Regions from separate parts of the Homo sapiens genome. Here regions 1 and 3 are each linked to region 2. The links come from fine-mapping of genetic effects on gene expression. A gene starts in region 2. Each other region holds a variant in brackets. All regions are shown on one strand. Distances are between the middles of the regions. Region 1 has its middle 140 kb from the start of SLC38A6. Region 2 holds the start of SLC38A6 (solute carrier family 38 member 6). Region 3 has its middle 110 kb from the start of SLC38A6.

Evidence for each region. PIP is the estimated chance that this variant, and not a neighbour inherited with it, causes the effect. A credible set is the group of variants that fine-mapping cannot tell apart.
Region 1: its variant is the best candidate, but not a certain one, in a credible set for the expression of SLC38A6 in whole blood (TOPMed, PIP 0.51).
Region 3: its variant is the best candidate, but not a certain one, in a credible set for the expression of SLC38A6 in monocytes after LPS (Fairfax 2014, PIP 0.67).

Annotation. Positions count from the first base shown.
Region 1 is chr14:61,119,532-61,130,312 of GRCh38, forward strand. No RefSeq gene overlaps it. Among named protein-coding and RNA genes, the nearest start is that of SLC38A6, 140 kb to the left of the region's middle. RefSeq lists a silencer at 6,820-7,114. The variant C/A (reference allele first, on the strand shown) is at 5,286.
Region 2 is chr14:60,976,285-60,987,065 of GRCh38, forward strand. SLC38A6 (solute carrier family 38 member 6) reads left to right here and starts at 4,961. Exons shown (of 16, transcript NM_153811.3): 1 at 4,961-5,098; 2 at 6,224-6,354; 3 at 8,446-8,519. The coding sequence starts at 4,994. TRMT5 (tRNA methyltransferase 5) reads right to left here and starts at 4,795. Exons shown (of 5, transcript NM_020810.3): 1 at 4,679-4,795; 2 at 2,947-3,602; 3 at 1,230-1,354. The coding sequence starts at 4,689. RefSeq lists a silencer at 1,487-1,781 and an enhancer at 4,685-5,064.
Region 3 is chr14:61,082,862-61,093,642 of GRCh38, forward strand. It overlaps a transcript of SLC38A6 not described here. Among named protein-coding and RNA genes, the nearest start is that of SLC38A6, 110 kb to the left of the region's middle. RefSeq lists enhancers at 6,164-6,665, 7,729-7,868. The variant GTATA/G (reference allele first, on the strand shown) is at 5,679.

The sequences.
Region 1 (10,781 bases), 140 kb after region 2:
ACAATGAGGTTTCCTCTAAAAGTTATTTTTCTACTTTCTTCTGTTAGCAAAGCTGTTGCCGCTACAGATTGAATGTATTTAGGCCATCCAAGGGGTACTGGATTAAGGATTTTTACAGGAAGGCTACGGATTGTCAGTGGCCTCAGTGCTTTCGGGCTACACCCTTGTTTACACTGACAACAAGGTAGTATTGGAGTGTTGTAGGGTCTCAGAGAAGACCTTTAATTATCAATTAAAGTTTCTAAATTTACCTTGGCTTTTAAACGAATAGGGTAAACTGTTGTTGTTGTTTTAACTATTTGTATATCTCTTTCTTTCTTTCTGTCTTTGACTTTCTGTCTCTCTCTCTGACTTTCCTGTTGTCTTTGTCTCTTCCTCTCTCTCTGCCTCTCTTTCTCTCTCTGTCTTTCACTCCTTCTTTGTCTCTCTGTCTCTTGTTCTCTCTCTCTTTTTCTCTCTCTTTGCCTCTTTGCCTCTCTCTCTCTTTCCTCTCTTGTCTACTCTGGGTGGTCTAGGGGTGTGTGTGTCCTGTGGAGGCTCAGGTGCTGTGGGCTCAGGAGTGGGGAGTCTCTCTTCTCGGTAAGGGGGGGCACCACTGGTGCCACTGCCTGCCATGCATCCTGTGATGTTGGGTCAGACAGAACCTTAGGAGCTGACTTCTCTCAGCGGGTGGAACGAGATCCCCCTCTTGGCTATCTGTCCCTTTGCCACTAACACTGCTGCTGCCTGTCCTCTCAACCACTGTGGGGGGTCTAAAACTCACTGCAACCAAGTATCTATGTATGGAAACTGATCTGGGTGTCCTGATTTACCAGTTACTTTGTGCCATACCTTTGAAACTAGGGACTTGTCTAGACTTCCTTCTGATGGCCATCCCACCTCTAATGCCGGCCAATCTATCTCACACAAAGCCTTAAGCTTTCCAGGTGTCATAGCAATTCCATAGTCCCCATTGGATCCTTTCTTGAAATTCTTTAACACAGTTCCTAACGGAGTAGGCTTATTCTGTGTTTTACCCATTTTCCTCTCTCAGCAGACAAAACAACACTCTTACCACAAAGAGGGAAGGGAAAAGGGGCAAAAAGTCACTCACTCACCAACCAATTCACACCAGATCAAAATTAAATCTAAAACCAAAGGACGGATAAGGAGTTACTCATTCATCAAGCAATTTGAGCCGAGTCAGAACCGAAATCAAAGCCAAAACAGTTCAAATCCAAAAGTCAGAACTGAAATCAAAACCAAAACATTTCAAATCCAGTCAAAATCAAAACCAAAACCAAAGTGCTGATAACGGCACACCGTGGGTGATCAGGCCATGCTTCCACTCAGATGGAGTGGGCAAGTTCCAAGACCGGTCTTACCATGTTCCAGATGTCAGGACTCCAAGCACGGATTCCTTCCCAGTGTTCAGCCGCTGTGTTAATCCTCCATGGGGGTCTGCCGCGCACTGCTCTGGCAAAGCATTCCACCTGGGCGATGGCCTACTGGGAGTGCTCTCAGGATCCGTGTCACAGGGCTGGAGTCCCCCACAGGGATGCTCCACAGGACAGGCCTAAGCTGCCTAAGGGGCTGCCTTGACCATCCGTTAATCACCTCACTTCCCGGTCAGGGAACTAAGAAATGTAGCGTGAACTAAGAAATGTAGCAGGACCAGTCACAGACAAAACCTCTCGGATACCAGTTTTAGGAAGGAAGAGGCTTTAATTAGCTGGGAGCATTGGTAGACTCATATCTCAAGAACCAAGCTCCCTGAAGTCAAGATTCCTGTCCCTTTTAAGGGCTTACAACTCTAAGGGGTCCACATGAAAGGGTCGTGATACATTGTGCAAGTGGGGACTACGTGACGGGGGCTGTCTGCACCGGTGGTCAGAACAGAACAGAACCGAACAGGGAGTTACACAATGTTTCCTCATACAATGTCTGGAATCTATATATAACATAAGCGATTAGGTCAGGGGTTGATCTTTAACTACCAGGCCTGGGGTGTGGTGCCGGGTTGTTTGACTATTGAATTTCACTTCTGCCTTTTCTTTAACTCCTACTTTTTCTTTTCTTTGAGGGAGAAATTAGGCAAATAGGCAAAAGAAAATATGAGAGGCGGTTTCCTTCCTTAGAAGGGCTGAGCAGGGATTACGAAATCTCAAATGCCAAGATCTTATGTGCAAACCATGCCCAATGCTGTAAACATTATTAAGCCCTACCAAAGGCTATTTACTTGAATCCTACCAAGAAACATTAAGCATTACGAAACTTCTTTTAAAATATTGTTTTGCATTATAAAATAGAATACAACATAAAAATATTTATGTTAAATAATTATAATAAACTATGCAAAATGAGTAATAAGGAACAATATAGCATAAAGTCATGTATATAATGTTTACAATATTTTTATAAAGTAAATAAGAGGTTCTTGTCTGTTCCTCTAATATTCTTTATTATCACTGAGTTTTGTTTTTCTTCTGGAAAGAGGGGGCAGGCAGAGGGAGATGGCTGTGGGGACCTCTGCCAAGCCTGAGTTGGGCCACAGTCAAAAAACGTTTGAGGGCATCATTCAGAAAAATAAGCCTGCAAATAATTTTTCTCAATTTCCTGTCTTTTTCCTGAAAGATGGTTTGAAGATGAATGGCTGAGTAGAAAACACTTTCAGATCCCCACATAGGCAACGGCAGAAAAGCTCCAAGTGTGATATTACAAATATGTATTGTCATCGAAGACAGAAATATTTGCCTTGTCCACCCAAAAGCACAATGATCGTATGGGTTGATTGTATTTTCTTCTCTATGTATTATGTGCAGAATTTCCCTTCAACAAAAGAAGGGAGGAAAGAAAACTAACCCTGCATTGTAGGCTTCTGCTCTATTTTAGGAGAGGAAAGATACTCAAAGACAAAAACCAGCAAGAAATGGCATTTGACTTGCAAGCCTTTAGGAGATGTGCATAAACAGAGAAGCTCAAAGGGAGGCAGAGAAACCAGGATGCCATCGTTGATTATGTCCTTCCAGCAACTGCAACCGTGCCTCAATTTGCAGGGAAATACATTCCTCTTCATGGACCCTGTTCTGGGACCCATAGCATGCTCCAGGCTGCAGCCCAGACAGGAAGGTGTCCAATATGTCTTTGAGTTCCATCTTGGGGATCTCATGTGATCTCTGGTGTGTTAGTGAGTGGGCAGGGCCCCTGGATCCCAGCACTGACCTCAGTTACATGAAGAGTCTGAGTCCATGGCAGGATCTGGGCCCACAGTCTTCTCACCAACCCAGAGGCAGAAACAGACTCTACAAGCAACATGGAATGGCAGTGCTTTGTATCTACATTTATTAGTTTTTAAAAAATTATAAAATCTGGCTGGGTACGGTGGCTCATGGCTGTAATCCCAGTGCTTTGGGTGGCCAAGGTGGGAGGTTCCCTTGAGCCCAGGAGTTAGAGACCAGCCTGGGCAACATGGCAAAACCCTGTCTCGACATGGCTAAATAAAAAAATTAGCCAGGCATGCTGGTACACACCTGTAGTCCCATCTACTTGGGAGGCTGAGGTGGGAGGATCACCTAAGCTCAAGAGTCCAAGGTTACAGTGAGCTATGATTGTGTCACTGCACTCCAGCCTGGGCAACAGAGTGAAACTTTGACTCTTAAAAAAAAATTATAAAATCGGTGTTTGTTTTACAAGAATTTGAAATTCTAAGCTATATAAAAAGGAAAATAAATATCACCATAATCCCACTGCCAGGGAGTGCCACGGGGTACTGGCACTGTTCCTCCAGCCCTGTATCTGTATATGCCTATATGCCCATTTATACCCATGTTGGATATCAGTAAGGATTCCCCAGCCTCTCACACTGTTGGAGAGGCTCAACCCTGTTCCATGCCCTCTAGAAGTCTAAAGTCCTCCCCAAGCCTTCTGGAAATTCCATGGGGTCTTCAGTCCTCAGGATCACCCCTGCCCCCAAGCATGGATTTCTATAGCTAATTTCCTGGTGTTGTTCCGTTTTTCATGAACACAGATGGAGAGTACGTCTTACCCTGGGTTTCTACCCTAAATCTGCACTCACACAGATCAATTATTGATGGGGTGGACTTCACTGAAAATTTTAGGAGGGGGTGGAGTTGGAGTTAGTTTGAAACCACAGTAGCAGCCAAAACACCAGGCATCTTTGTGTCCTCCAGGCAGCTACCAGGCAGAGTATCTGTGACTTCTTCACCCTGGGAGGCCTCAGACTCACACCTCCAGGCTCCTGGCTTCCCCCTTGGTTCCATGCCCCTCCCCCAGCCCTCCCCACCAGCGGCCCCCAAAGCATCTCTTCTGTTTCTTTGCCCCCCTCCCCTATGGTCTTCCTTCTAATGCAAGGAAGTTGCTTATAAAGGACTTTGTTTAAATAAGGACCGTTCTTATAGCAACTGTTACAATAACAAAAATCTTGAGATCATACTCTACATACATTCTTTATTCTGCCTTTTTAAATTGAGCGTTACACTTTTAGCACTTTCCCATATCATTAAATATTTAGCAGCACTGGATTTCATCAAAAAGATGCACCATCATTCATTTCTCCATTCCACTATTTTTGGATATTCTTTGCTTTGGGGAAATTTACAAAGCAGAAATTATTAGCTCGAGGAGTGTGAATATTTCTAAGGTCCCATACTAATTGCCAAATTGTCCTCCAGAAAGGTTATGTCAATTTGCACACTCTGAAGCTCTAAATGAGAGTGTTGAGTGACTTTATTCTTTAAACAGTTTGCTAACTTGACATTGTCTGTGGAAGAGACTATTTTAGGTCAGTAAAATATCTGGTCAGAGTCACAGCCACAGAGAGCCCAGGGTGTGAGGGAGCTTTTGGCCTTGGGGGACTCCAGGGCCCTGGGGCAGTTGATAAACCTCCCAGGACCTCCGGTGCTTCTCCGTAGCCTGGCTCCCACTGGCTCCAGTGCTCAAAGCAAATTCTTCCCCCAAGCCCTGCAACTTTCCCTGGGGTAGCTCTCATTCCACCTCTATAACCAGGAAGGGCCCCTTGGGTAGGCACCCCTCAGCAAATACCCCTAGCTTGTCCTCAGCAGATGTGGTTGGCGGTGGGCAAACTGGCCTTCTCCCCTGCTCAGTAGGGAACTGGACTTCTGGACCCACCCAGACTCATTTCTCTCTATGTCATTGTGTCAGAGGTGTTTGAACCAGAGGAACTCCATCTTAAATAGGAGCTGGGTAAAATGAGGCTGAGACCTCCTGGGCTGCATTCCCAGATGGTTAAGGCATTCTAAGTCACAGGATGAGATAGGAGGTCAGCA[C/A]ATAAAGACCCTGCCATAAAGACCCTGCTGATAAAACAGGTTGTAGTAAAGAAGCCAGCTAAACCCCACCAAAACCAAGATGGCCAAGAGAGTGATCTCTGGTCATCCTCACTGCTACACTCCCACCAGTGCTATGACAGTTTACCAATGCCATGGCAACATCAGGAAGTTACCCTATATGGTCTAAAAAGGGGAGGCATGAATAATCCACCCCTTGTTTAGCATATTATCAAGAAAGAACCATAAAAATGGGCAACCAGCAGCCCTCAGGACTGCTCTGTCTATGGAGTAGCCATTCTTTCGTTCCTTTACTTTCTTAATAAACTTGCTTTCACTTTACAGACTTGCCCTGATTCTTTCTTGCGTGAGATCCAAGAACCCTCTCTTGGGATCTGGATTGGGACCGCTTTCCTATAACAGTTGGAGTTTGGAAGAGATGAACAGCCTCCATTTCCCCATCCCCCCATCCCTCCAGCAGAGAATATAGGGTCACTTTCCCCCTTCCTAAAGGCTACAGAGGCTCACAGCAGCAGAGCCTCGAGTACTACCCCCCTTTCCTTTTCTGAAATGAGAGATGTCCAGGGAATCGGGGACATCTTTCCCTCTTCTCTCTGTTAGGATGCTAGTGAGTTCTGCTTTTCCCACTTTGTGAGCAAAGCACACATGTGCACAGCTAACAAGCCAGATGATTTCTAAATAAACTAAAAATACTGCCTTATCTCAGAGGCCTGTGCTGAAGGAGCTTGTTTAGAGTATCGGATGAACATTTACAAATAGAAAATCCTTCCGAGTTACCTGCTGTTACACCCCATGGCTTCCTCCCCTGGAACACAGCAAAGGACCTGGGGTGACTGGAGCAAGTGGCCATCAGGGTTTGGTGATACTGCGTCTGATTTGTCCTCTCCTCTAGACTCGAGACAACTCCAGGGCAGATCCTGGAGCCTCAGCCCCAGTCCAGGGTCTGGTACATAGAAGGCGCCCCACAAGGGTTGGTGGTTGGTGGGAACACAGCAAAGTGGGAATTCCTTGGCTGGTACTGTGCAGGTGATTGAAGCCAGCTGCCTAGGGTTAAGATATCCCATTTCCCAGTCTGGGTAGGAGAAACCCAGGTACATGTTCACACATGTCCACTCTGTTTGCCTCTCCCTCCCATCCGGAGTCCTTCCACAGTGTCCCCTCCTTGGGACATCTGCTTCCCCAGCATATGCCTCTGGGGCACTTTGCTGCAGAATGGAAGAAGATCAAGTGCTCTCCTGTTCCAGGTCAGGCACTTTGGATTTAACCTTGAGGCAGAGGCTCAGCTGCCCTGACAACCCACAGCTCATTTCTACAGCAACACCTCCTGCAAAGGTAGCCCAGCACGTCCTTGGCCACCAGCTTCCTGCGGTGATAAAAATAGCTGAGGCCCCGCAGCTGCTGAATGATGAATTCTGGAAGGAGATGATTGATTCTCACAGCTGAGTCTCGGGGTCAGCGAGTGTTGTGCAAGTGGAGACGCCGGGGTGAAGGATGGGGGTTCTGCTATAGATAGAACTGTTGACAGAGTGATCCTGGGCTTCTCCCCACCTGAGGGGAACATAAACTGAGCTAATTAAAAGGAACTGCAAAGGGCTGTTGGAAATGATGCAGACGCGTGCATCCTTTGCTTTCAGACCATCTTTGACCTTTTTGGAATGTGCAGTCATTTCCCCTCCTTCCTTCTGGCACAAGATTCAAAGTGGGGAGAAAGTGTTCATTTCCAGGGAAGGCAATGGGGTGGTAAAGTGAGAGGAGTGCCTGCTTTCCCTAAAACAATGGTGAGGAACTGTCAGGGCTTATGAAACACCACAGGGACACCAATGTCAGGCAGCACCTAACAGCCTGGAATTAAAATCTGCTCCCCGCTTGCTCAGGCTGGAGGAGTGCTCCTGCTGGCCTTGCCAGGGGACTAGCCTGTGATCTACCATGGCTGCACTCTGATTAATCACAGTGATCTAAGGTTAACTGTGCACATGAAGCTCCTGACCAGCACCAGAGTAGCTTGTAAGCCAGTGCCCATGTCATAAAGCCATTGCAATTGCACTGTGCACAAGTAAACAGCTGGGCCTGTGACATTGCACAGATGGACTGGATCTGGGCAATTCATAGATATCACCATATGCATTTACTTTATAGTACATATTTTCTGGGCAATCTATCCCCCAGTGTTCTATAAAGTAATAAGAATAAGGTTTCAGAGAAAGGGAGAGAGAGAAAAGTCACTGGACAATGGGGAAATTAAGAAGCAAATGAGAAAGGATATGTTTTCAGATGAGATTATTAAAAAGATGATGAGTTGATGAGGTGGCCAGACGAAGAGAAGATAATCCAGATGGCTATTGCTCCCAAAGAGAAGGCTCTGTGTTGTAATCAGAGCAGAGAAAAAGGGTGAAGGAGACCTACTGGCTTTCATGAAAGAGACAAAGGGGAGCCCCTGCAGGGGAGTCTGGGTGAGGACCACAGGCTTGAAAGCAAAGCAGACCCTTCCTTTGTCTTTATTGGAATCCTATGAAAGGCAAGTCCTGAATGCCTTTACGCCTTTCTCTCCATCCTTTTCTCATTATCTGCTCCTCTGAATTACATCTTGCCAGCTCCAAACCCTTCCCCAGGTAGCTCCCATCTCTCCCACCCGCTAAGGTATCCTGGAGTCACCTCTGCCTCCATCAGTGCCTTTGGGGATGCAGCAAGTGGAACTGAATCCACATACTCCGGTTATCCCTGACTGTAGAGTTCATACAGAAGCTATCTGTATGCCTCCTCATTACGTAAAATTTAGAGTCAATTCAAAGGAGGGTAACAGGACAATGAGGGGTCTGGAAATGGAGTCAGATCAGCTTAGGTAAGGTAGGGGGCTGATACTATAATTAGTCTGGAAAAGAGAAGATTTCAGATAACCCTGCAGGTTGTCTCCAGGTCTGTCCCTCATATTTGTGGGAGATAAATGGAGACCTCTTATCTTCCAAACCCCTACTCTGTCCCACTGCAAGAGGAGTTGCACACATGTACATATGTGGACAACCCAGGCTGCACATCCAAGCTGCATTTCCACACCCCACCAGAAAACTGCCACTTGGCCACTGCTGGAAGCTGGGGAGTTCACATCAGAAATGTGGGCCATCTTTCAGAGGACACACCCGGGAAGAAGCTACAGGCTGGGGTCATTGGACTGGGCACCCCCAGGCTTGTTACCTGGAGCAAGTTCTAGAAGAAGGCCTTGCTGGATCGAGGTGGGCCCGTCTCCATGGTCCCACTAACTTGTCTTGCTCATGGAAAGTGGTATGACCCAGGAAGGGCTAGAATGGAGCCCCCAAAATGTGGGGCCTATGGAAGAGACCCCTTGCCAGGATCTAAGTCTGCTGCTGAGTATGACCAACTCAAGCTGTCCAAACTGGATGCCAAATCTGCTCCTTCCTCTACATTCTGCCTCATGAAAGTTTTCACTGTCTCCTGCAGGAGAACCCTGACAGCCTGGCCTTAACCCCTCACTTCTCCTCTTTCTCCATCTCCAATGCAGCATTCAGTCCTGCTGACTCCAACTCCTTCAGGCCTCTAGAATCTTCCCTCTTTCCCAGCCCCTGGCTACGCCCAGTGACAGTTCTCACTTGTGCCAGGACTAATTGCCTGGCCTCCTGAGTTGAACTCTTCTCCTCCAGTCTCCACACTGCCAGTCCAGCAATCTCTCCCTGAGGTAAATATGACCTTACCACCCCCTTTCCTACCTAAAGCTCTTCAGCGGTGCTCCCTATGCCAGTGGGATCAAGCCCAAGCTCCTGAGCCCAGCACACAAATCCCTCCGTAGCCTGACTGCTGCCCCTGGCCTCTGACTCTCAAACCTTGTCAAATATTCTTACAGTTAATGCAACAAACATACCATTTCCTGTTTCTTTGCTCACACTGCTCCCTCTCCCTGAAGGGCCTTTTCTCTCCTGCCTGCTTGGTTGATGTGAACTCACTTTCTCCTGCATGGAAACCTTTCCAATATCCCCTACTCTTCCTTTCCTCCCCAGGTAAAATTGATTATCTGTAAGCTGAACTGAAGTCTACATCATAGCAAATAAAATAAAATATTTTCTACGATTTAATTGTTCACAAATCTGTTTGGTTTTTTGTTTTTTTTTTTTTCCACCAGACCATAGTCTCTCTAAGGTAGGGGCCACATTGTTCTTGGCAACCCTGTGCCTGACACCGAAACACGTGGTGAACTGAAATGGAAAGTGTGTATCTGATCAATGCTGGTTGCCACACATCTAATCCTATGTTGATGAGCACATGTCATTTTTTGTTCTTAGCAGCTATTATATATGGTAACACTTTCTAAACAATGGACAGAAACTGATCACAAGTTCCAGGCAGGCATGCAAGACAGGGGGAGTCCATAAAAGGTGCTCAGCCTTGCTGAGAACCCCTGGTATCACCAGCAGCTGGAAAAGCACCCAGAGTCTGCAGCAGTTCCAAGCCTGTGGACTTTGTGTCTCAGGTACCAGGGTTATCTCAGGATGAAAGTCAGGCCAGTTCCTCCAGCCACTTGGCTCTGCATCCCCTTCTCCTACAGGAGGGGCCAGCAGGGACTTCTGGTTTACCTTTGGAAGGGAGGGAGAGGGGATAGGCCAGGCAGGTATGAAACCTACTCAGGTATTCAGGGCCCAATAGGCAGCTTGTCTACTTGTGACTCATCGAATGGGCAAGGATGCACACAGGATGCGACGCAGCCCTGCCCTGGAAGGGCTCATACTCAGTGTGGAGGCCAGGGCAGTAAACCAATGAGGTGAATATGAAAGACCTGCCAAGGGAGAGGCAAATGCCAAAGGATGAGTGCACCCGGGCAGAGACTTCTACCCACCTCCTTCCCAAGACCATGTGCTCCCCTCCCCTCACACAGGGGTCCCTGTCCCCCTTGTTCCCTGATCTTCTGTCTGCACAAACTTCCCGCTCTGTCTGGACCGCTCCTCCCACTGTACCACGCACAGCCTGTTCCTTTCCATCTTCAGTGTCCGCTGAAATGTCCTTTCCTCAGAGGCTTCTTCTGTCACCCCCTTTATAGCAGCTTCTGTACTTTAAACTGCATTATTTGCTCTCAGCTTCTTGTTTATTTCCTTGAAAACATGAATTGAAGGAACCATCTTATTTATTATGTGTATTGTGTCTCTAATCCACTGGCTCCATGAGGGCAGAGGTTGCATCCATGTTGTGTTCTCCTGTGTTGACAGCATCTGGGACATAGTAGAGGCTTAATAATTGTTTACTAAACAAATGAAGGAAAGAAGTGCTCTTGTTGGTTCTCTGGTAGGTGGTGATGAGAGATGTCATGGGAGGTCCAGAAGTCAGGACATTCAAAGAGGGCCTAGTAGCATTGTCAAGCGTTTGCCAGATGGAAGAGGCATTGCAGGTGTGTGAGCAGGGATGTGATTCTGAGGGTGATGAAGGGTGGTGGTGGGGATACATGTAGCCCACCTGGGGAGGTAAAAGGGGGCAGCTATT
Region 2 (10,781 bases):
ACTCCTGGTGTTTATGCTATTCCTAAGGCCAGTTAATATACTGCATTAGACTTATTCGTGAGAAAAAGTCATCTCTTTAAAGCCAAATGGCTCTCCATCTCAATCCTATAGGGCCATGGCCATAAAGTAGTTACCATATCACATGAGGAATTTTTCAGACAGGCCAATTAACTGGCTTAATTATACTCTTATGTCACCAGATAGACAAGGCAAGACCTACAATTTTGAAACAACACACCACCCATATCTTCATGCTGGGTAGCCAAGTTGCAGACAGTACTTCTATGCAGCAAACAAGCTTCCCTCCTTATTTAGTTTTGTGTTTGTAAAAGGGAGCCATGGTAGATGTGTCACTCAATTTTGAGGTATTTTACTATGTTTTTCGACAGCTACTTGAACTTTGCAAATTTGATGTCTATAAATTAGAGCCAGTGTATAGAATGAATCATTCCCAGATTCTCTTTCCCAAATTTGAGTTTTCATGGGTAAACTAAATATATACAGTGAAGCTAATTCTTGAACAAAAGACTTTTTAACGTTTCTTTTGGGTCTATTGTAGTAGACACCTTAAAAAACAGAAAATAAAACTTAAGTTACAGTCATGAAGTATGACCTCAGCCATCATCTTAAACTCATTAATTTATGCATGAAGAATCAAAGGCCAGAAAGTTCATAAGTTCTATAAATCTCATAGATAGATACATCTTCCATCTTCTGCTTTCCAGGACCTTAATTCCCAATTTGTATGTATATTTTTTTTCCTTCTCCCAACCATATCAGATGCTTCCGGCCAAATTATTAAGGTTACAGAGGTGGAAATGTTTCTGCAAATTTCTGCCAACTAAAAGTCTTTCTGGGTATAACCTAGAAGGTTTAAATATATCTCGAGAACTATTTTATACATACTGTTCTATAACTTGCTTTTTGTCACTTATATTGCTTTCTGGCAATTGTCCATTGTCAACCTATCGATGGACAACTTATTTTAACAAATATGGAGCTAAAAAACCTTTAATGATGGAAATATTCCATTGTATCACTATATGAGAATTTAACCAATTCTTCTGAAAAGGCTTTATCAGTGTTATTCCATCAATAGCATACATAAGTGATCACATTCTCACATACTCACCAACACTGGATGTTACAAGTATTTTAAATCTTTGTCATCTATTCTGACTCTAAACATAATATTGATATACACCTTACTTGGAGATAATAAAATATACCTTTGTCATCATGTTCTGCTCTCCAGATAGCACTTCCATTTGGAAATTTCGGTACATATTGTCAATATTATTTATTTTATTTACTGCTGAGGTGATTCCTGGATTTTTGTCAATCATAACCTGGCCTAAAAGAAAAAATGAAAATCCATAATACTGCCTATTGGTTGCAAAATAAAAGCTAACATTGTTAATATGAAACAGAAATGAGTTGTATTTCTTTTGGTTGATAAAGACTGCACCTACTGTGTGTAATGTGGCATGCAATTTAAAAAATTCAACAGATGACTAAAGTTAATGTCTGACGGTTGCTAATATGCACACACAAAATGTTGGGTACATTTTTAAAGAAAACGTTTTGAGGAGTTTGGGTCTACCTAATGTTTTTTCCATGTTTTACTAAATCTTTTCAAATGAACCAATAAACAAGGAACCAAAAAGGTAGATCACAAGGAATTGGGAAAGAATGGAAAGAGATGTAAAGGACCCTGGCAACAAATGGCCTCAGAAAACAGTAAAACATCTGCCGGTTCCACTGGCCTCAAGCCAAATGTCTGTTTTACTATGGCTTTGGAACAAATGCCCCCACTTTAGAAATATATGCCAGCAAAACAATGTTTCCAAAAAAAAAGAAACATAGATTATTTACAGTCCTATCTAAATTAAATGTTCATTTACTTCAGAGCAAAAAAAGCTACAGAACTGGCATACTCATGGCCATTTGATGAATCTATTTTTTTAGTTAGCACTTTAAAAAAGTTATAAAAATCTATATGCTATCTCATTGCATAACTTGATTTGTAAATCAGCACACAGTACCCAATTATACAATATCCTGAAATACAACCAGCATTTGTCCCATTTCTGATAATCAGATACTTGTTTTTTAATATAGTATCAATAAACGAATTAATCATTGTTCTTACCCTTTCTGCTTCATGTATCTGAACTCAACTTTTAAGGTACAGAATTTAGTTTGAAATGAGGAATGAAATTTATAAATTTTTAAAAACTATTCTGAAGGTCTATAGTAAAAGCTTTAAAATTACTACTGTATGAAAATGTTTCACTTTTAATGTATGAGTGCCTCTATGAAAGAAAGTTTATAAAATAGGAATGCCAGAGGAATGTTTGAGTTAGGGTAGGCAGTGACTCACAGGAAAGCCTAGACTTGACATTTGTACCCAGTCACAATTACAAGGATCTGCTTAAGTATTTATGTTACCACTATCCATTATTACTCCCTTCATCAATAAAAACAAAAGAAATGTGTAACAGGACAGTATGGTGCTTGACATATAGAAGAGGCTCAATTGGTTGAATCAATGAAAGCATAAGTAAACATCTTGCACTTTTGACTATAAAGTACCCAAATTTATGAAACCTAGTATTTAACATAGCCCTGAAGGCCTAACAAGTCTTGTGTACCAAAAAGATCTCTCCTCAATGTAGCTGCCAAAGCATGTGATTCAAGTTTAATCTACACTGATGTATTGTTGTACACAAAAGCCTGGACCAGTATTTGGAACTTGCTATGACTAAAGAAGATATTTCAAAATGGCCCTCAAAAGAGGGTATGTAGCTCAAGATCTAGCTTAAAGTTAACATGATAAAATGTTCTGCCTCTGTAACTTGGCATTAAAAAAAATAATTTTTAAAGCTAAAATTAACAATTTGCAAATTCCCTTCAAATACATGAATATTACTATGACACACGTACCAATTAAATGTTTGAAAGGCAGCTGATGATCTCGAAGGTTTAGGTGTGCAATATGTCCAATCCTGCTAAACCCTGAAGTTACATCTTGACCTTCAGGAAGCACAGCTCTCAAGATTTCTTCTGACTTAAAGTGTTCATATGTTAGTTCCAAATTGTATTTAGAGATCTGTGGACTGACATTAAGCTGCTCTAAAACACTGAGTTCTGCTTTCTCAAAGGAATCATGAGTAAATATTTTATAGGGATCCAACATGATTAGTCTACTTTCTTTATCTTCCGGATCTTCAATCACACGTCTTATGCCTGGGCGCTGCAATGCTGCCCTTTTTAGGGATCGCATCAATTTACTGACTATTTCTTTCCTCACTTTAAGCACTGGAATGTTGACTGTCTTTTTAAAAGCTGTTCTATCAAGTTTTGTCATGCCTCGGACATCAGAAGGTGGTGAAAACAATTCAGTCTCTCTCTCATGTGTTTCTGTTTCTGGCATGGTTGAGAATCTTTTTCTTTGACCCAATAAGAAAATACCAGGTGCTTCCAAAAGCATCTGTGTCAGGGATGTCCAAGCTACTGGAATCAACGATTTTGATTCAGTTATGCTATGGCTTTCCAGTTTCAGAAATCTTCCTGAGAATCCAAATGGCCTCCATAAGATCCTTAAAAAAAAAAAAAAAAAATTCACACACGACAGCTTTTGAGAATAAAAATCTAAATTCTACTATCTCAAATAACGGGCTAAATGCTGACAAATAAAACGTTTAGTGATGTGTGGGAAGTATACTATCTTTTCCAGACTAGGATGACTTCTTCAGGAAGTCGTATTAGTGGTAGATAATAGTGGTATATATTAAATTTACACCTTCAACCCATCTGCTCCCAGTTCAGAGGGCTTAGTGATCCATTAGCCATACTCAATGATCCTCTTCACCCACAATTTTCTAGATAATACATTTGGGATTGGAAGACTGAAGTATGAGTTAAATGGTCATCTGTAAATGAAATAGTCATTATACATGACCATTACTAGTGGTGATATTTATTAGGATAGTCTCATGGGTGCTTATTGTGTCAGATACTGCGCTAAATGCTTTATGTACATTATGAATCTTGGGAGGTGTGCAGTATTGCACCCTCATTTTGTAAATAAGTAAACTAAAGCTCAGACGTAAGGTAACCCACCCAAAGTCTCCCAGCTGATAAGTGGCTAAACATGGATTAAAACCTAGTTTTGACTGACTTCGGTGCTTGTGTTCTTAATATATTGCTCTGTTGTTTGTTTTCGATGCTTTACTGCCACATGTCCTGCCTTTAACTAGAGGCTTCTGTATTTTGAGGACGAGAGCTTTGCTGATTGTTATATGCATAGTATCAGTTATTCACTGTCTTCTAAAATACCAAAGAATTTACTTGTAAGGGGAAAGGGCCCTGTCCCAGAATCCTGTAAAGCAACGAAGTCTAACTTCACCGTCAGAGATCAAATTGGTTCTAGCAGCTGACCAGCTGGGTGACCCTGGATAAATTACTATAAGTCTCGGTTTTCCCACCAGTAAAATGTGGCGAAAGGCTTTTGAAACATTCCTTACTATCCAGAACCTCGAAACTAAGCTCAGCACCTAGGCGGGTGGGTGACCTCGCGATGTTTCTGTGCCCAGGCAGCACATGGCAGAGAGCAGCCCTGGGCGGGCTGGTACCTCCCCTGGACCATTAGCCCCTAACGCGGCCGCCACCTCACCAAAGCACCATTCCAATTCCCCACGTCGCTCTGCAGCTGGATCCGCGAGCCGACCCCTCACCTCCCGCTCCGGTACCGATCGGATGTGGGTCGCGGGTGGATGGGCGGGTCTTCTATGACATCATCACTGTTCGCCGCGAAGAGGGCGCGCGTCATCAGATCAAGTCGACTCGCTCCTCTCCTTCCAGGCCCTGGTGAAGTACGGAATGCCGGAAGGGCCGGGCTCAAAGCTCCGCCTCTGGCGCGACCGACGACTGGAGCGCAGGGCAGGGGTAGAGGCTCGTAGATGGAACTGGTAGTCAGCTGGAGAGCAGCATGGAGGCGTCCTGGGGGAGCTTCAACGCTGAGCGGGGCTGGTATGTCTCTGTCCAGCAGCCTGAAGAAGCGGAGGCCGAAGAGTTGAGTCCGTTGCTAAGCAACGTAAGTGGGCTGTGTTCGCTTCCCCGCGCTGACGCCCTCCGGCTTCCCTCAAGTGCCTGCCAAATAAGACCCAGAAAAGGAGGACCGCACCGGGACAGGGGAGATGCTGGAGCCTGAACCCTGGGGGATGGGGTCTGAAGGCAGCCGCCGAGATTCAGATGAGATTGGCGCAGTTATGAACGTGATAGCAGCCTAGCATACTCTAGAAAGAAAAGATGAAAAGCGTCGGGTGGAAGAGATGCAGCGTTGAGTGGAAGCTGCGAACATGATGGGATGAGCGGCCCTAGGATTATGTACTCACTGCTGTTAGTTAGTATTTTTGTCACCTTATTTTCTCCACCAGTCTCGTGAGGTCTTTGCAAGAGTCACAGGATTTTCCTCTTCCGACTTAGTCATGGGGGGAGGGAAAATAATAAACATTTTAATACAGAAATTCTTAGCGGTAGAATGGAAGTGGCTTGGTAGTAAGTGCATAGCACGTTCCTGACCCTAAAGCCTGTGCAGTGGGCACTCCGCTTTTTAACTCGAGTCCTAGACACTGTTCCCAGGACTTTGTTCCCGGTGCTGTTTGTGGGGAGGGGGATGTTTTCAGGGATACTGCCAGAACAACGTGAATTGCTTCTGTTTATAATATTGTCATTGCAAGATATTCCTGACCATCCTTCCAGTTTGGTAGAACTAATTCATTAGATATATAAGTAGAGATTAGTTGTGCAGTCCTAGTAATTGAGGAGAAACAACTGCCCACAGCAGTCCCAGGTTGACTCAGCAATTCTTTAGTAATCACATGAGCTGAGGCCTTATCCCTCCTCTCTCTCCCCACTCCATTCCCATCCTATCTTCATCTCTTGCAGTCACAAGGTTAGTCATGGCCCTTCCTGAACTCTGCCTGTCTTGTGTACTGGTGGAAATCATTTTCCTAAGAAACCCTAGATTCCTGGAGCTGCAGTAGTGGGAGGTGGGAAGGAAAGGAAAGGAAATTAGTGTTGGTTAAGCAACGAGTGTGTCATACAAACCCTGGTGGTTTGCAGCTTTTTTCCATAATCTTTCATTTATGGAATTTCTTTACGAAATTTTAACTTCACCGTCCAAACATTTAACACTACTAAATTTGTGTGCTTACAGGAACTTCACAGACAGCGATCCCCAGGTGTTTCATTTGGTTTATCAGTGTTTAATTTGATGAATGCCATCATGGGAAGTGGCATCCTTGGCTTAGCTTATGTTTTGGCTAATACCGGTGTCTTTGGATTTAGGTGAGTCTTCATATTTTAGCATCAAATTTTTTTTTCCATTTTGATAATATACGGAGAAGTAGAGAGATAGATTCCAGAAGCTGCTATTATACAATTTCTAGTTAGTTATTTCTGGGGTTTTAGCATTTTTCTTGTTATTCTTGTTGCTAGTGTGTACCTTGGAGGGCTACTACATAGCTTCTTAAATACACAGAAGTGTGACTAGTTTTTAAAAATGGGAACTTGATCCACATTTCATTTATAATGAAATATGACACTTAAGAGTGGCATATTCATTGTATCTCCTTGGCCAAAGTGAATCAAAGCCATGCAGATTAACTTCCAAATAGCAATTTTGTGAGTGCAAATACAACACATAATCTTTTCATTCCTCGCTGTCTCTTTGTATTGTTAAGTAGTCTTATTTCACTTTCAGAGGCCAGACATGTGTTTTGTGCCTGTTCTTTTTTATGTTTCAGGACTTAGCTTGTAGGCCAGTTTGCCCAAAATAGAAGACAATCCTGGATATTCTGTGCTTTCATAGTACTTTGTATATTCATTCTGTTATTATAATTGTTACAATGATATGTTTGGAAATTAATGTTCCCACTAAACTGAAATCCTTTACAACTGGAGGTCAAGGCAGGCGGATCACTGGAACCCACGAGTTTGAGACCAACCTGGGCAAGATGGTGAAACCCCATCTCTGCCCAAAATACAAAAATTAGCCTGGTATGGTGGAGTGCGCCTGTAGTCCTAGCTACTTGGGAGGACTGCTTGAGCCTGAGAGGTTGAGGCTGCAGTGAGCCATGATTGGGCTACTGCACTCTAGCCTGGGTGACAGAGTGAGATCCTGTCTAAAAAATTTAAAAAATAGAAAAATCCTTTATAACTGGACCTTATTCTTAGCATCTAGCACCACATGGCTAATAGAATGAATTAACAAATTGGCTTTGTCAGTAGAAGCAGATCTATTTACTAGGAAATTTAAAATGCCTAGGGAGTCTCTTTTATGTTTATTTCCTGCTTTTATTCCAAATTTTTTGATAAGCAAAGCAACTTTTAAGTAACCCAACTTGCTTTTATTATGGAATGTACTCACAAACTTTCATTATTTTTAAAATTAAAAACTATATGTGACACCTTAAGCAAGACATAGTCAGAGGACTTTTTTTTTGATTCTCTTTGAAAAATCATAATTTATGCACCAGGGTCTTACATGCAGATATATACTGCTGAATGTGTGCTCACCCAGTCATAGCAACCATCATTTTTGGTGATGCTAAAGTGTTATTTTGTGAAGTTCCTGATGTCAGTTTAATGACATTTGTACTTTTACCTCTCAATTTTATTTATTAACAAGTATTAACTGGACCACAGAGAGAAAATTTCTTCAATGACTGGGGCAGTTCACTGGGGATAGCTGTATAGAAGCTTGTCCTGCTGGTGTCTTCCTAAAAATGAATAGGAAATTATCTAAGTTTTTTCTTTCACACTGTTGGTGAGAGGACCTCAATCATTACATTGTTTGCACATTTTTCAAATTGCATCATTAGAGGTGTGTTAACTACATTATTTTAATTTAGTTTGGTTTGGAGAGTGTGTGCGTTTAATAGATGCTAGAAAATACAGCCTAAATAAATCTTAAGTACACCTTAATAAGATGAAGGTATGATAAGGAGGTCAATATCACTGGAAGTAGAGGGAGGAAGGGAAAAAGAGAAGACAATGAGATTGCATAAGTAAAACTTCTGTTTAGACTTAAAATAAGAAGAAAACCAGTCATAAAAAGGAAATATTACAAGATTATTTAATGGCTGATTCAGCAGTCAGCAGACAAGACTGCAAAATGAGGAAGTTTGCTTGTATTTTTAAAAAAGTTTGGTTTTTATTTTTTTTTATTTTAAAATCAGTATATTTTCATTTAAATAAAATTGGTAAATACAAAAAAGTAGAAAAGTATCTTCTTAATTTCCTTAATGAACATAATTCTGCTACTCAGAGATAGTTCCTGTGAATATTTGACTGTTAAGCAATTTGTTTTTGTAATGAGACACCATACAAAAGACAAACTTTTGGGAGGTTTTGACCAGGTGTTCTTTTATGTTTTAGCTTCTTGCTGCTGACAGTTGCTCTCCTGGCTTCTTACTCAGTCCATCTTCTGCTTAGTATGTGTATTCAGACAGGTGAGTAAAAATGTTATGCTGCTTCATTTAATAAAGGAGTCTCTTGAGTTTGTATCTACATATAGAACTGGATGTCTCAAATCTAATATCCAGTGAGCATACATTTTTATTAGATAGGGTGATCGGAATGGAGAATTTGAAAAACCAGGATATACAGACCCAATACTGTGGGGGAATATCCAAGCACAGGATGGGAGGAGGTAATTAGCATTTTTACCTGCTTTCCTCCACAACACAACCTAATTTTCTGGAGTAGAGTAGATCATGGGAGGGTCTAAAAGGTGTTCAAAGGATCCAAACCTTATGCTTATGGAGAAATCATTTTCTCAAGGAGAGAACACCTTCTCAGAGCTACTGTTGCCTTCCCTGCCCCCATCTGCCTGCTAGTCAGAGGTAGGGATGGCAGAATTAGGATTGTAGGAAGTAAGGTCACAAAGCTTTAATTTATTTAGACACATTTTGTATTTTTAATTGCAAGTCTAGAATAGGGTAGTTTTTTCCTAAGAGAAATAAGTATGTGCAGTTAATTCAATATATTTGTGTATATACTTTTTCCCATTTGGAATTTTATTATGCAATTCAGTCATGTATTGAATAAGTTCTTTTAGGATCCAGTAAATAAAAGTATATGAATTATAGAAGTGCTTTTCTAAGATTTTCCTTTTGTCATTAACAAATATTCTATGTTCATCAGTCCTGGTCTTTTTATCTGTCTAGTCTCTTTTGTCTTTGGATTAGGTCAGCTTTGATGCCAAAATCATGGGTTTAATTCTTATATGGATGAGTTCGTTTTGCTTTATCTGGCCTTGTGATGTTCAGATTTTAAGAAGAAAAGTAGATACACAAAATAGATAAAAATGGATTTCTTAATTCATTTAGTGTTTCTATAAAAGAATACCTGAGGCTGCATAATTTATAAATAAAAGAGGTTTATTTTGCTCATAGTTCTACAGGCTCTGCAAGAAGCATGGCCCTTCTTATGAGGGGCTTTTCTGCTCCATCTGCATCTAGTAAGGGGCTCAGGCTGCTTTCATTCATTGTGGAAGGTGAAGGGGAGCTAGGATATGCAGAGATCACATGGCAAGAGAGGAAGCGAGAGAGGAGGGGCATGCCAGGTTCTTTTTAACAACCAGCTCTCATGAAACTAATAAAAGTGAAAACTCACTCATTACCCCAAGGAAGGCACCAAGCCATTCATGAGGGATCTGGCCCCAGGGCCCAAACACCTCCCCTTTGGCCCTACCTCCAACACTGGGGATCTGATTTCAACATGAGATTTGGAGGGGTCTGACAAACCAAACTATATCAGTGAGACTATTCTGTGCTGAAACAGGTGAGTGAAGCCCAGTGATGTTTCTTAAGAATTTTAAGACTCTTCAGAATAATTCTGAAGCCACTGCTCTAGTTTGTTTTCCTAAAACCTGTCCATCATCAGAAATACTCATAGATCTTTTTATACACAGAGAGCTCTAAGCCTCAGGGATTCTAATTTCAAAAATCTGAGGTGAGACTCAAGAATATGTTTTTAACAAGGCAAAACCAGTTTAGGATCCATAGTTTATAGCTCTAACTTGTACCAGTGCTTTGGCCAGCCAGTGCCAGATATGTTTTTAACAAGTCCTCCAAGTGATTCTTATGCAAATCTAGTTTAGGATTCATAGTTTATAGCCACAACTTCTAACAGTGCTTTGGCCATCCAGTGCACGCCTTTGCTCTCAAGGGGCTTGGGTGAATGTGCAGACAGATGAAAATACTAGGAAGCAGTACAAATATTAATCCTAAAGTAACAGGTTGTTCATAAAAGCATCCTGAATTTAGGAATAATAGCTTTAGATAAATATATTTGTAAATCCTGCTGAAACTTGAATTTTAATTGCATGTATTGAAATTTTGCTGAATGTGAAAAAAATTTTACTTAATTGTGATACTTTAACATCTTGGTAGATTCTTTCAATTCATTCTGTTAAAAGATTAATACTTTAGTCAACTATGTGGCAATTATGTCTTTCAAGCTTCATTTTAAAACTTCATTTTAGTTTTAATTTAAGTAAAATGTTTTATTTCGGTTATGTGGGAGTAGTATTCAGTGTGTGGAGATTTCTAAGTAATTTTAATTTTTTACTCCTTCGGTTCACATGTATTTAACTTTAAGATTCTGACACTGTGTTTGTTCTTTTCTGTAACTCTGGGGCGTATGAAGTGAATATATCTGTTTCTCTTCTTTTTTCTTTTTCTTTGATTTCTGTAGCCTACTTGGGCCCA
Region 3 (10,781 bases), 110 kb after region 2:
GCCTTAGGGAAGTCATCTCTAAAGGCTGTTTTATTACAGTGTTTCCTCAGAATGACCCTATAGACACAGTGTTTTCTCAGTGTCCTCTCACCTTTGAACATATCCGGGAATAATTGAAAAAACCAGGCAATCAAATGTGCCTCTCATAAATCACCATCACTTCAGAGCAGAACTTAAGAGTTTGGTTTGCAAGCCACACCAAATAGTTTGAGCTTGGCCCTCTACCATTTCCTCCTGCTCTGAGCCCAGAGGTTCACCTAGTGGACTGTAGCAATGGATTCCCTTGCCCCTGGCTTCCTGTTGGGTTCAGCCAGAGAGCAGCACCAGTGGGAGCCTACAGAGGGAGGAAAGTGAGGTCAAGGTGTCTGCTGCCTCCTCCCTGCCTGCCAGGCCACTGTGGGTAGACTACACCTCAGGTGGCCCTCCCCATGTGTAGCCATGCTTGCCAGGTTCTGGGTTCTGGAAACCTCCACCTCCTCTTGCCCCTTCAGTCATAGGGTGGTAGCCCCCTTCATTGCTATTAGCTGTTATGCACTCAATTGTGTTCCAACCCCAAATTCGTAGGTTGAGGCCCCAATCCCCAGGACCTCAGAATGCAACTGTATTTGGAGATAGGGTCTTTAAAGAAGTAATTAAATTAAAATGAGGCCATTAAGCCCTAATTCAATGTGACTGGTGTTCTTGTAAGAAAAGGAAGAGATACCATGGAGATGTGCACCCAGAGGAAAGGCCACGCAAGGACACAGCAAGAAGGCAACTGTTTACAAGCCAAGGGAAGAGGCCTCAGGAGAACCAAACGTGTCCACACCTTGATCTTGCACTTCCCAACCTCCAGAACTGTGAGCAAATAAATGATGTTGTTTAATCACCCAGTTTGTGGTATTTTGTTGTGGCAGTTCTAGCAAACTAATACAGTGGTACTTACTATTCCATGGGGATTTCCCTAAATGTTGCTTATTACAGTGTGTAAGTCCTTCTGGTAAGCTTTCCTTTTGGGAAGTCATCTGTTTCTTGTTGGGACCCTGATGGATATCCAGGCTTAGATGCCAACAGGAGGTTTTAGTGACAAAGGCAAGAAAATCTGTCACTGGAAGTGTCTCCCTGCTACCGGTGTCCCTCCCTATCATGTGAACCCACCTGGGTACCCTAGTGCTACTCCAGGGTATTTCCTTTTCTTAGAAGGTGAGTGACTTTGGACTGATCATTCCCTGTGAGCTTCAGTTTTCCTCTTCGTAAAGCATAGGTAACAAAAGCTGCCTTTTTGGGGTATTTTGAGGCAACATGTTGGATGCAGATATGAATGGACTGCGATAACCCAGTAAGGAAACAAGGTTGCTCTTCTATAGCAGTATTTGTAAACAATTTCATTGATACATACGCACAAAGCATTGAAATCTTTGAAGGCAAGAAAATGGTGATGTTTACTAGGGAAGGCAGCTCTGAGTCTAGCATAGGGGAGACTGTGCGATTTGCCCAGCAACTTTCTATGCCCTCCTCCCAAGTCCAGGAAACCTTGAAAACCACAGTGCAGCAGAGACAGAGACCCGTGTACCAACCTATTCTCAGTCAGGTTTTCATTAGCTCTTCATAAACAACCAGTCAATCAATTTCAACTTTTACTTCACAGTCTCCTGCTGTAGAGGCCCCATACATACAACCGGTGAATGGAGCATCTCTTTCCCTTCTTCCTTTTCGTTTGGGAATGAAGTCAAATCTGGAGGCCAGAGCAGCTCAGACACCTAAATAGGTACACAGTATGCAGTAAGATGAGATTCTGTTTCTGGCTCCTCATTCCTATTTCCAATAAATGAAGCTTCTCAACCATGTTATTTTCACCTGCCCAAGCTAAAACACAATCTTCACTGTCCCCATAGCTCCAAAGAGGGAAATCCTGACATAACATGGGGATGCTGCTAGAGTCTTTGCCCTCTCTGCAAGCTAGACTCGCTACTGGCCCTTCCCAGAGTGGGCCAAGAGACCAGGCTTATTCCTCAGTTGGACATCTGACCTTTCACAAAATAGAGTTCTCCCCTGGGAGGATGATGCCTCCAGGGCAATAGGAACACTTTTTTGTTAGCTTATTACTATCTCTATCCAATTCTACACCACAAGGCATTCTTGTGGGTGTGAAAAGCTATTGAGGAATGAAATGGCCCTGTGGGCTAGACAGGTGAAAAGAGAATAAAATCTCAGCATGTGAAGGTCTAGGAAGAGTGTCACTTAAACTTTTAAAAAAAAGCCAGACAAACTGCAAGTTTACTACTTTTTTTGGAGAGCTGAGGTCACAGGGCAGCCAATTAGCCTAAAAATCTAAGGACTGGAGGAGGCCTATGAAGAAGCATGGGACACAAGCCCTTGCTTACCTGGAGCAGATGTAGCCAACAGAAGAACTCAGCAGGAGTAGGTAAAGAATTGGTGGCGAATGAGTGAGGACTGGTGAGAGTATGGAGACCCTGGGGAATGCATATGTAGAGGGAGTTTGCACCTTCTTGGAGACTTTTCTCCATGGACTCCACCAGGCACTGTATCCCACCAGAAAAGACTGGCCAAAGTCCTGAGAAAGAATCCCTCACAGTGCAGGTATGGGGGAAAGGGAAAATAGCCACTGCAAAGGGGCATGAACCCCACCCTTTCTCCTTTCTAGAAAAAAAGCCTTAATCTACAGGAGAAAGGGAAAAATACTGTTTCCTTTAGTCTACTGGCAAAACTTAGGGAAGAACAGAACAAAATACCTCTCTGTCCCAAGGAAGGGGCAGGAATACAGAAACAAGAACTAAGAATGTATTGCCAATAAATGTACTTGAGAAGAAATGTTAAAGAAGTTCTTCAGGTAGGAGAAATGTGAAACAAGATAGAAATGCGTAACTAAAGACACAAAAATATGAAGAGCGCTGGAAATTGATTAAATGAAGGTAAACTAAGATACATGTAAAATGTTTAAATGATCCTAAAAGATAAATGACTGTCAAGAGTAAACATAGTAGCAATGTATTATGTGTGTATAGGATAGGTAAAAGTAAAATGTATCGTAACAATGATACAAAGGTTGGGAGGGAGGAATTGAGGAGAAATTATTTTAAGATCCTTACATTATGAATGAAGCAGTATATTATTTGAAGGTAAACTCTGATCAATTAAAGATGTATTGTGTAAATGCTAGGACAACAACTAAAAAATTTCTCAACTATAAATCAAATAATGGAGATAAAATGCAATCATAAAAAAGTGTTCATAAGAGTAGAAGTCAATGAAATTGAAAAACAGAAAAACAATAAAGTCAATAAAACCAAAACCTATTTCTTATAAAATATCAATAAAATTGATAAGCCTTTAGCCAGACTGACAAAAAATAGAGGAGATACAAATTACCAATATCAGGAATGAAAGAGGGAAACTACTACAGATCCCATAGACAATAACAAGATAATAAGGGAATGCTATAAACAACTCTATGACCATACATTGGACAACACAGATGAATGAATTAATTTCTTAAAAGATACAAATGATCAAAACTCACCCCAGAAGAAATATACAATTTTAATAGTGATATATATTAAAGAAATTGAATTGTACTTATAAGCCTCTGAAATATTCAACAGTTAACAAACAAGAATAGGTCTAGATATTTCAATGGAAAATTCTACCAGACATTTAAAGAGGAACTATCACTAATTATATACGATATATTCTAGAAAATAAAAGAGGGGGTAACATCTCAATTCATTTTATGAAGCCAGCATTACCCTGATATCAAGGCAGATAAAGACAGTTTCGAAACCTATAGACCAGTATCTCTCATGAGCATTGATGCAGAAATACTCAACAAAATATTAGAAATTATGAAAAGAAGAATACAACATGAACAAATGGGTTATGCTGGGAAAGCAAGTTTGATTTTTTAAATTAATTTTTAAATAATAAAATAATTATTCCATTATATTAACAGCGTAAAGAAGAAAAGCTGCATGATTATATTAATTTATGCAGAAAAGGCATTTGACAAAAGTCAGCATTCATTCATGATAGTTATTCTCAGCAAAATAGGAATTGGAAATTTCCTCAAGCTGATAAAGGGCATCTAAAAAAATGAAAACAAAAAACAACCCTACAGCTAATATTATACCTAATGCTGAAAGACTGAATGTTTTCTCCTAATATTAGGAGATAAGAATATCCTCTCATACCACTCCTGTTCAACATTTTACTGAAAGGCCTAGCCAGTGCAATAAGGCAATAAAAAGAAATATAGAACATACAGATTGGAAATGAAAAAAATGAAATAGTCCCTACTCACTGACAATAGGATTGTTTATGTAAAAAAAAAAAAAAATCCCAAACCATCACCAAAAAACCCGACCTAATTAATATGTGAATTCTTAATCATGACATGTTATGAATGTCCAGTTTTCCATGTGTGTGTGTTTGTGTGTGTGTTTGTGTTTGTGTGTGTATTTATGGAGTTATCATTCTTGCTTTCTGACTATCCAGCATTCAAACATTATCAGTATTGGAGGAGAATCTCAAAATATATGTCTTTACCAGCAAGCTAAAGGGACCAGATAGATATTTCTTCTCTCTATTTCATGGGAGGTATAACTATATGACTGAGTCTTGACCGATCAGGTGCTCCCATGCTGGGCTCAAATTTCAAGGAAGTAATGAAATTATACAGGTGGCTGTTGGAGATTTCTCATGAGGACAGCTGAATCAGGAGTCCCTCAATGCAGAGGTTTGTGTCCGGGGATGGTGGGATTTTGTTTATAACACTACCAGGCTGGACCATGATATGAGCTGGCTGTGTTCTTGGTTGCCTCACCACCCTTTGTTCCTGCCCTGTTGCCGACCCTAGTTCACCAGCCTTATTGTTGAGTCTATAAGCTACCTTCTAATAAGGCTATTTTCTACCTGATATCCAGAGTTTATTCCTTCTGTTGTTATCAACAATGTGTGTGTGTGTGTGCATGCGCGCATGTGTGTGTGTGTGTATGTATTAAAAAATGGGAATGGCATTATACTGCTTATATTGTCCTGTTACTTTATTACTTAAACATATATACTGTCAACATTTTTCCATGTCCATGATGTTGCTCTATTTAATCATTTTAATTATTGCCTGGCATTAACTTATAGGGATTTATTGTAATCTGTTTAACCAATCTCCCATGACTGGACATTTAGGTTGCTTCTAACATTTATTTATAATAAACAACACTGCTATGCATATCTATACATATAAATCTTTTGGATTTTAACTAATTATTTCCTTAAAGTTCTAGATGTAGAATTGCTATATCAAAGGGTAGGTACGTTTTTCAGGTTTTTGATTCATACTGCCAAATTTCTTAACCTCTCCCTCAAAAAACTTGTGACAATTTATACTACCATCAGTCATATGCCTTTATGACAATGTTGATTTCCAGGCATACTACCAACTTAGATTATTATCTTTGTGAAATTTTTGAGTTATTACTTATGTTCAGTGACTTTGTAAATATTTGTTAGCTGTTTGTGATTATTGCTTTGTGAGTGACTGCTATTGTCTTTTGTTCATAATTCTTTTGAGGGAAAGGAACATACTTTTTATTTAATTTATAAGAGCTCATAATTTTATTTATATTTATATATATAAGTATATATATATATATGTGTGTATATATATATATGTGTGTGTGTAT[GTATA/G]TATATATATATATATATATATATATATATGTGTGTGTGTGTGTGTATATATATATAATTTTTTTTTTGAGATGGAGTCTCTGTCTGTCACCCAGGCTGGAGTGCAGTGGCATGATCTCAGCTCATTGCAACCTCCACCTCCCAGGTTCAAATGATTCTCCTTTTATATTAAGGCATCTATCTGTCTAACATCTGTGGATCTATACATCATATATATTAAGGTATAATGGCCATGTATATTGCTATTTTCCCCCAATTTTTATTTGTGTTTTTGCTTTGTTTATTCTATTCTGAATTTTTTCCCCATTTGTATATAGTCTATTAAACAATGCTTTATAGTTTCTGTCTTTGGTTGATACTTCAAAATAACTTTCCCGTCCCAAAATGGTAACAGTATTTACATTTTTTACTGGTACTCTTATGTGTTTTTTTTTAATAAAATAATCATATAGAACTAATTTTGTTTTAAGGTACGAGGTACTAGCTAACATTTTCTTCAGAGTTACTAAATTCTTAAGTATGTTTGAATTTGTGAACTCTGTATTTCTGAACTTTTCTTAATGTCTCCTTAATCTATGCTAGGGCTAAATTACTCAATTAATTAAACAATTTCAAGATTTCAGAAGTTTTAATATTTAATGAGAAGTCTTCAGCCTTGGGGTAGAATGTTGTTGCTTGTTACTTAGTGCTGGGGAGTCAGGGGTGCGCTTGATCCTAGTACACTCTCAGGCTTTGGCAGGCCCTGTATGCCTGGATCTTAGGAGTAAGGCTTTCTCAGAAATCCTGCCCCTCCTCCTCCTCCTCCTGTGGCAGCTGAACCCTGCCTTGTGTCATGTGCAGGAGAGAATGTCTGGATCTGGGGCTCAGGACTGTTTCTTGCCCGTTCCCCAGGGATCAAGGGTGTTTTGGCTTTCCCCTTCCCCAAGCTGCAGTAGGTCTTCACCTGTGCCCTGACTGCAACAGGCTGTACTGTCCCTCCCCAGTGGCTTAGGTGGGAGGAGGGTGTGGCTGTAGCCTTATGCCTTTCCTTCAGCAATGTTGCCCCTCTTTCCTGGGCCTGCACTGTGCAGGGAGGCTTCTTTGCTCTCCCACCCTGCCTTCAGTCCTTTCTCAATCAGTAGGTGGAAGGGAGTGGAGAAGAGCCTGCAAGTGGGCACCAATTCCTCTTGTGTCTGCAGCCCCCAGGGGTGCTACACTCATGCTAGTCTGCTTCTGGCCTTTAGTAATTTGTTAAAAGCTTTAGATGAATTCTTTTTATGTTTTTGTATGGCACCCAGTGTTTCTTCCCATACTCAGCCACATCTCTTCTTGGGGACGCAGCCTTTCCTTAGATTTCAGGCTTTTGGGTTCCGTGTGATCTCAGCTTTCTGGTGGACTCAAGAAAAGGTATGGGTTTTTGGTCATCTGACTTTATTGTTGTTGTTAGGGTGGGAGAGACACTATTTTAAGCTTTCTTTATAGTAAGCAGGAGGGGAACTCCTGTGTTTTCATAGCTAATCAAGCATGGACCCTGCCCTTATTCTCTTTTTAAAAATTTTCTTGGCTATTCTCACATATCTGTTCTCTTAAATATACTTTAGAATCATTTGCTCAAGTACCTCAAACCCAAACACCTCCAAAAGAATTCCTTTTGGATTGACATGGTATCAAAATATGTAAACTGACTTCAGTCCCAGATGTTGTCGAAACTTCATTCCCAAGATCTGAATAGAGCAGTCAGAGCGGATTGTGATTGAAAGACCACCTCCAAGGCCAGCCTGCCTCTAAATCCCACCTGTTTTGTTTTGGTGTCTTGAAATTCCAGCATTAGAGTGCAGAAAAATAGTTCTAGGACCTTAGAGGATGAAAATGTATGCAGTTTGTGTTGGAAGGACCAGCATAATAACTAATGTGCAACCATCACTGCACTTACAAATTAAGGTCACAGATCTAGACAAAGTATTGTGTGAATTAAGTGAGTCAGTGAGTGAGTGAGTATGGAGAGGGACTCTGTTAAGAACAGGGGAGCTAGAGGGGAAATGACTGGATCTGGAACTGAGAGCACCCGAGTAGCTGAGAATGCGGACTCTAAATCTTCTGGGGACAAGAGGAGAGGAGCAAAAGCCCCACAGCCACCTCTGTGGTTGTCACACTTCAATCTGGCAGCTAGAGAAAAGCCCGAACCAGGCCAGGTAAGGCTCCCCTCAAGGACTATGTAGATTGTGTGCTACAGGCAAAAAAGGGGAAAACCCTCCAAGAGGATCCAGCAGTGATCACAGCTATTGATTTGTACTCCCACGGCCCTTGCGGCCATGCATCTCTTAAAATCAAATGAAACAACCATCAACAATTGTGGTAAGAATTTTCCAGTAGGAGAAATAGAGAAAGGAAAAAAAATTCTGAGAAAACAAAACAAAACCCTTCTTGATGTTTTCCACAGACTGCTTTAGAAAGAGAAAGACTGATGCAATCCAATCAAGGACAGTGATCCTCGGTTGACCCAGGATATTTCACAGACCCAGAATGCAGAAGGCACAGACGCCCACAAGCAGGCCTCAGTTTTGACTTCTTAAATGCAACCATTTTTTGTAAATTAATATTGAATTTTCAACCAACTCCAGCACCTCATTAAGGAGGGGCCTGTTCTTTGCCAAACTCTTCCAAGGGAACCTGCTGGGTTTGAGTGTAGGTGTCAGCAAACATTTCCCAGTATGTTCTAATGGGGAAATATTTATTTTGTAACACTCCTTCCTAACCGAAAATACAATTATGTGACATGTTTTATATGACCAAGGGGATTTGGGCTAAGATTTTGTATCCATAATGTGCCCTAATATTGAGAAATATCATTTTTAAAGTATTCTCTTTGGCATTGACAGGGGGCTACATTCTGGAAAAATAGCACTTCATGGGAATTTCCCTTTAGCCCTGAGAAAAAATAGTTTGGGAACACATAACAGTATATTTGGTTTGGGATGTTAAATCCTGCAGGGTCTCTGAAAGAGGCAAATGGGTGTGAGAAAGAATTAGTTACTGCAAGTTTATTTCATAATGGCCTATAAAAAATATACGTGTTCCATTTCTAAAGCTGCTATGCCCTTACTATAGCTATAGCTATTTTTTAAAACAAGAAAGACTTTCCACAAGTCATTTTCTACTTTGGGTGGGATAACATTTAGAGCAAGGTATAAAGGACCTTTGCCAGAGTAATTACCATTTAAGGCAAAGGTCTCCAAGATTTTACTTGGAGCTGAAGATCTTGGCGCAGCCCTGGCTCTGTGGAACACCACACACATCCAGTGACCATGGGAAAGCTGGCTCCCTGCTGGGTAGTGCTGCAGCATTAGTACAAGTCTCATGCTCTGAAGGGTGAAATGTGATGATCTGCTAAGTGAAGGCTCTGTCAGGAGAAGCCAGAGGAGTGGTAACAGCTCACCAAACCAAAATCCATGAAGTCCCAGCCCTTTTTCATCGTCACCATTTTTGCATATAGAACATGTCCCTATGGGGACATCCAGGGAGTGGGTGCCAGGACTCAGTGTGCCCAGCCCAAGGCCAAAGAGAGTTTATTAGCAGAAGGATCACTTACATGATTTGGAACCACAGGAGAGAGAGATGTGTGGTGGCTGAAAGCAGAACTTGGGCTAATGTTTATAAGAGAGACCAGCCAAGAAGCCTATGCATTAATTAGTGTTCTGCTGGTTGTTCTGTTAGGAGGCATCATTCATCACTTAAAATAAGACCTTTTATTTATTTATTTATTATACTTTAAGTTCTAGAGTACATGTGCACAATGTGCAGGTTTGTTACATATGTATACATGTGCCATGTTGGTGTGCTGCACCCATTAACTCATCATTTACATTAGGTATATCTCCTAATGCTATCCCTCCCCCCACCCCCCACCCAAAGACAGGCCCCAGTGTGTGCTGTTCCCCATCCTGTGTCCAAGTGTTGTCATTGTTCACCTCTCACGTATGAGTGAGAACATGCGGTGTTTGGTTTTCTGTCCTTGCAATAGTTTGCTCAGAATGATGGTTTCCAGCTTCATCCATGTCCCTACAAAGGACATGAACTCATCCTTTTTTATGGCTGCATAGTATTCCATGGTGTATATGTGCCACATTTTCTTAATCCAGTATATCACTGATGGACATTTGGGTTGGTTCCAAGTCTTTGCTATTGTGAATAGTGCCTCAATAAACATATGTGTGCATGTGTCTTTATATCAGCATGATTTATATTCCTTTGGGTATATACCCAGTAATGGGATGGCTGGGTCAAATGGTATTTCTAGTTCTAGATCCTTGAGGAATCGCCACACTGCCTTCCACAATGGTTGAACTAGTTTACAGTCCCACCAACAGTGTAAAAGTGTTCCTATTTCTCCACATCCTCTCCAGCACCTGTTGTTTCCTGACTTTTTAATGATCGCCATTCTAACTGGTGTGAGATGGTATCTCATGGTGGTTTTGATTTGCATTTCTCTGATGGCCAGTGATGATGAGCATTTTTTCATGTCTGTTGGCTGCATAAATGTCTTCTTTTGAGAAGTGTCTGTTCATATCCTTTGCCCACTTTTTGATGGGGTTGTTTGATTTTTTCTTGTAAATTTGTTTAAGTTCTTTGTAGATTCTGGATATTAGCCCTTTGTCAGATGGGTAGATTGTAAAAATTTTCTCCCATTCTGTAGGTTGCCTGTTCACTCTGATGGTAGTTTCTTTTGCTGTGCAGAAGCTCTTTAGTTTCATTAGATCCCATTTGTCAATTTTGGCTTTGGTTGCCATTGCTTTTGGTGTTTTAGTCATGAAGTCCTTGCCCATGCCTATGTCCTGAATGGTATTGCCTAGGTTTTCTTCTATGGTTTTTATGGTTTTAGGTCTAACATTCAAGTCTTTAATCCATCTTGAATTAATTTTAGTATAAGGTGTAAGGAATGGATCCAGTTTCAGCTTTCTACATGTGGCTAGCCAGTTTTCCTAGCACCATTTATTAAATAGGGTATCCTTTCCCCATTTCTTGTTTTTCTCAGGTTTGTCAAAGATCAGATGGTTGTAGATGTGTGGTATTATTTCTGAGGGCTCTGTTCTGTTCCATTCATCTATATCTGTTTTGGTACC